Linked DNA regions of Homo sapiens: region 2 is linked to region 1. The links come from fine-mapping of genetic effects on gene expression. A gene starts in region 1. The other region holds a variant in brackets. All regions are shown on one strand. Distances are between the middles of the regions.

The links. PIP is the estimated chance that this variant, and not a neighbour inherited with it, causes the effect.
Region 2: its variant is fine-mapped to the expression of UHRF2 in tibial nerve (GTEx, PIP 0.97).

What each region holds. Positions count from the first base shown.
Region 1 is chr9:6,411,499-6,414,277 of GRCh38, forward strand. It overlaps UHRF2 (ubiquitin like with PHD and ring finger domains 2), which reads left to right and starts at 1,701. Exons shown (of 16, transcript NM_152896.3): 1 at 1,701-2,145. The coding sequence starts at 1,993. RefSeq lists silencers at 1,419-1,558, 1,839-2,018, 2,089-2,518.
Region 2 is chr9:6,560,193-6,563,000 of GRCh38, forward strand. The region is part of intron 16 of GLDC (glycine decarboxylase); the gene reads right to left. Among named protein-coding and RNA genes, the nearest start is that of GLDC, 84 kb to the right of the region's middle. The variant G/GA (reference allele first, on the strand shown) is at 1,461.

The DNA of each region.
Region 1 (2,779 bases):
TCCCGAGTAGCTGGGACTACAGGCAACTGCCACCATGCTCAGCTAGTTTTTTAATATTTTTAGTAGAGATGGGGTTTCACCATGTTGGCCAGGCTGGTCTGGAACTCCTGACCTCAAGTGATCCGCCCACCTCGGCCTCCCAAAGCGCTGAGATTACAGGCCTGAGCCACTGCGCCCGGCCTTTCTCTTCTTTTTCATGATATACTACTGGATTTGTCTGTGCTTGTAATTATTTTAGCTGTTTATTAGTTTATTACAAAAAAATGGTACTGTACCTTTATGGGAATAATTAGCACCTATGTGAATATTTAAGTTACCGATTTTGGCAAATGTGAAGTCCAAGTTGTCTTGTTTTGTTTACGTTTATATCCTCTCTCCCTTCTTGAGAAGACATATTTTCATTTAAAATAAACCCACTTGGCCGGGCGCGGTGGCTCACGCCTGTAATCCCAGCACTTTGGAAGGCCGAGGCGGGTGGATCACGAGGTCAGGAGATCGAGACTATTAGCCGGGCGCGGTGGCGGGCGCCTGTAGTCCCAGCTACCCCAGGGAGGCTGAGGCAGGAGAATGGCGTGAACCCGGGAGGCGGAGCTTGCAGTGAGCCGAGATCGCGCCACTGCACTCCAGCCTGGGCGACAGAGAGAGATTCCGTCTCTAAATACATACATACATACATACATACATACATAATAAATAAAATAAAATAAACCCACTCACCCCCACCCCGACTCCCCAGCTGTAGCAGGGAAGGATTAAGAAGGCGGGGTGGGGGGTGGGGGAAGCCCTGTTAGGTAGTGCTGCGTTGGGCCCACTTCTGAGGGTTTAATCCTAGTAGGGTCTTTGGAGTTCTTTCTTCGGAGGCGCGTAGCTCTGCATTATTTAAAACTGTTTCCCGCAAACCCGCAATCCCTTAGGCCAAAGGCACCCCTAACGCGGAAAGTCTACGAACGGAAATGTCCGGAGTTAGAGAGCGGCCTTTCGGGCAGCTGCCCCGACTTCTCCAAGGCCGGAGGGCCGGCTGGGAGCGCTGCAAGCCAGAGAGGGCGATCCCAGCGGGACCCGCGGCCTGAGGATAGGCCTGGAGCTGCCGCCTCCGCCAGGCGACGGGAAACCCTCGGAAGTGGGTTTCCGCGCGAAAGTAGCATTGCGGCCAGGCGGGAAACGTGTTCGCGAAGCAGGAGGGCCCCCGGGGCCTTTCCCGGGCGACCCGACCCGCCAGGCCGCGTGGCGGGAGCTTTCCTGTTGAGCGCGGTGGAGCGCACACATTTCCTTCAGTTCTTTCTCGGAAGTTTAGGCCGCACCCACCCGCGCCCCCTTTCCAGGATTATACAAGTGCACGCCAGGGTTTCTTATTTTTGGTGTGTTTTTGAGACCAAAGAACCATATCCGCTAAGCCTGAGGAGGCACCCGCCCCCTCAGCTCTGAAACGAGGCCTCAAAACGGCAACCGATGTGGTAGCCGCGCAATCTTCCGAAACCCAAAGGCTAGAGGGCGTGCCCAGTGGCCAGGTGCAGGCGGTGGGGCAAGTAACGGCTTTTGGTAGCCCCGCCCCTCCGACCCGCCCTCTCCGCGCCTGCCCATTTTCGTTCCCTCGGGTCTGTAACCCTCTCCCGGGCCGCTTCCTCTTTAAGGCGGAGCCCGGCGTGGATCTCGCGAGATCCGGCTTGGCGCCGTGACCTCCATGTGGGAGCTCCAGCTCTATAAGTAAACACTCTGCGCGGCGCAGACATGGCCTCTTCCTATCTTTGAGGCGGTGTCTGCGGCAGCGCCTCAGAGTGGTTCCGGTCGTCTCTCCTCAAGTCGGCTAGTCGGGCGCGCGCGCTGAGAGTCGTCGCCGCCTGTCGGGCCCGGCGTCCGGTCGGTCCGGTGGGCGCGCTCGCCCGCCTGCCGCTGAGGGCCCGAGCCGCAGGGAAAGCGGCGCGGGCCGGGCGGGGCGCGGCGCCCAGAGCTCAGGGGGAGACAAAGGGGACCGGTTCCTCTCTAGGCGCCAAGATGTGGATACAGGTTCGCACCATTGATGGCTCCAAGACGTGCACCATTGAGGACGTGTCTCGCAAAGCCACGATTGAGGAGCTGCGCGAGCGGGTGTGGGCGCTGTTCGACGTGCGGCCCGAATGCCAGCGCCTCTTCTACCGGGGCAAGCAGGTGAGGCGCGCCCGCCGCGCCCCTAGCGAGGCTGGGGGCCGGAACAGCTGGGCTCCTCTGGACGCACCGGTCCGAGGGCTCTGTGCGCCGCGCGCGCAGGGCTCACCTGGCTCCGCTGCGGGTGGGCAGCCCCCGCGAGGCGCGGGGTGCGGGGCCCAGTCCCGCCGAATGGTGGGGAGTGGGTCCCTGCCAGCCCCAACTGGAGGTGCGCCGCGCGGGGTCAGAAGTGAGGGCGTCCGGAGCGCAAATATCTCGCCGTTTGTATTTGGTAGGACAGCGGCCGTAGGCACTGGGTGCCCAGGTCCCTCGCTTCCCGCGCTCGGCGGGGCCTGGGGCCCCCAGAGGGCGGGGAGGGCAGAGGGCTCTGGCGGCCATGCCACCGCGCGGGAGACCCGGAGAGCTGGCTAACCCGGCTGAGCGTTCGCCTGGCTTCCGCGGCTCTTCCGCGTCTTCGGCTCTCAAACAGGGGAAACTCGGGCATTGAGCTCTCAAGAATAAGAACCCTAACTCTGCTTCCTGACTGTGGTAGGATTCGCGCAAACTGAAGATTCGAAGGGTTTCCAGAACTTCTGGTCCCTCTCCCTCGCCGCCTTTCCTAGGTTTGGAATGTCTCGAGGGAGGTTAGAGACCTGGG
Region 2 (2,808 bases), 150 kb after region 1:
CATGATTACCCTGAAAATCATCCTCCTATTTTTTATCCCACAGAGAGATGGATGGGCATTATTGAAAATAGGCTATGAAGTTAAATCTTAGCTTACAGCTCTTTCCTCAAAAACAGCAAAGGAGTCTACTTAAGAAAAATAAACGTGTACAAAAAGAAAACATTAGCCAAAGGCAAACATGAACTACTTTGCACTCTTCTACTGTCAGAAGGTTTGTGTCCCTTTAGAACGGCTGTTGGTCTCATACTGGTTATGTCACGTTGTCCTCAAATCCGTTTTCTTGTTTGAATGCTTCCCTTTTGTAGTTAATTTTTTTCTTTAATTTCTGAGGACCCAAGCTGGAGGCACTGTCCTCTCTCACAGGTATTGCTAGTCTACAAAAGGATCGTTGGATGAAAGGATCCCTTCAGGGCAGAATATTGATAAGAAGGAGAAAGGGGAATGTTAAAAATAAATATAAAATATTCATAGAAAGCCAAAATGAAGAATTCATACCAGGTGAGTTCTGTTGAAACACAAACATATAAAAACGTCAACCACCCTGTGGTACACTGAATAACGGGCTCCCAAAGACATCCCTGTCCTAATCCTCGGAACCTGTGGGTGTTTCCTTATATGGCAAGGGGGACTTGCAGATGGGATTAAGGTAAAGAAAGATCTTGAGATGGAAAAATTCTTCTGGATTTTGGGCTGGGCCCTAAATATATTCTTAAGTGTCCTCATCAGAGGGAAGCAGAGGGAGATGGGACCACAGAGGGAGCGGGAGATGTGCTGACTGAAGCAGGAAGCTCGAGCCAAGGAACGCAGGAGGCCTGCAGATGCCAGGAAAGGTAAGGAAACAGATTCTCCCCTGTCTCCCCCAGAAGGAATCAGCTCTACCAACACTTTGACTTTAGCCCAGTGAAACCAATTTCTGACACCTGGCCTCTGCAACTATAAGAAAATTAATGTGTGTTGTTTTAAGCCACTAAGCCTGTAGAAATTTATCATAGCAGCCATAGGAAACTAATACACATCCTGGTACAAGGAGCGATGGAAAGAGAAGTCACAGTGGCTTTGTGAAGCACTCATTTATATGTTGCTGTCAGACATTTCTGGTTTTCTATGAGGATTTAGAGGACTTTAATTATTCTTTATAATGTTAAGTTTTTCCTCAGTTTAAAATTGTAGTGTTGGCCGGGCGAGGTTGCTCATGTCTGTAATCCCAGCACTTTGGGAGGCTGAGGCAGGCGGTTCACTTGAGGCCAGGAGTTCAAGACCAGCCTGGCCAACATGGTGAAACCCTGTCTCTAATAAAAATACAAAAAATAGCCAGGCATGGTGGTGCACGCCTACAGTCCCAGCTACTTGGGAGGCTGAGGCATGAGAATCACTTGAACCCGGGAGGCGGAGGTTGCCATAAGCCAAGATCATGCCATTGCACTCCAGCCTGGGTGACAGAGTGAGAGTCTCTCTTGGGG[G/GA]AAAAAAATTGTATTGTTGTGAGGGATATGGAAGTAACACGACCCAGATTTGAAGTTTTGGTTTATCCAAAGCAAATCCAGCATTTGGTGCATTGATGCCCATTTAGGGGGTGCTATGTTTTCTCAACTCCCCAGGGTGCCGCGTGGCATAGAATAGCATGAGGTCATCTTTAGACTTGTTGAATGAGTGAAGGGTTAAGGAGATCTCCTGTGCAAGGGAAACTAATGTCTTACCACTGGTAAAATCTAACAACCAAAGGCCACTACTTTGTCTCAGGCAGTTGGGAAGAAAAAAATATTCCCATACAGGTTTTGAGCTTTCTTTGTTGATTTACATATAACATAATTTGTTTCCTTTGGTCAATGTTTTCCCTTTGTATAGGAAACTCAGACTCTGAACAGCAAACCTAATTGTTTTTCTTTAGAGTTTTTATTTTTTCGTAAGATCTGGAGGTCTGCTGAGTAAGTCAGGATTTGACTGACAAATTGAAATATTAATTATAAAGTGTTAAAGGCCATGCCTGGTACATGGTAATTGCCATATAAGTGTTTGTTAAATAAATTTGTATTCTCCCAAAGTAAACTCATAAATCAAGAAGTTAGGCATTCCATTTTAGGAACCTCTGAAATTTAACCTAAGAGAAAATGTGAAAATAACTTCAAAAAGCAGCTTGAAAGAAAAGACCCATCAGGAGCCCAGGCACTTCTGTAGCACATGATTTCCCCACACTCCCTGCACATGACTTCCCCACACTCCCTTTCAAAAAAGAATGATATATTTTGCTGGATTCCATTAGAATCTATTGTGTGGGAGCAGCTGCCTCAGACATCAGTGATGTGAAAAAATCTTCCCTGATTAGTGAATACTAAATCATTTTCTTCTCTAACTAAGAAAGTTGGCTTTAATTAAAAAAAATTTTTTTTTGAGAGGGAGTCTTGCTCTGTTGCCCAGGCTGGAGTGCAGTGGTGCGATCTCAGCTCACTGCAACCTCTGCCTCCTGGATTCAAGTGATTCTCCTGCCTCAGCCTCCCTCAGTAGCTGGGATCACAGGCGTGCACCACCATGCCTGGCTAATTTTTGTGTTTTTAGTAGAGACAGGGTTTTGCTATGTTGGCCAGGCTGGTCTTGAACTCCTGACCTTAGGTGATCTGCCTGCCTTAGCCTCCCAATGTGCTGGGATTACAGGCATGAGCCACCATGCCCGAGCTAATTAAAATTTCTGATCCAGAAGGATGCCAACATTTCCAGGCTAATGAGCTTTGTATTTCTACCAGCTCAGTGGCTGGAGGGCTTCCCTGCCTCTCCCTTTCCCCCTCTCCCTGAAGCACAGCACCCAGCCCCTCTCCC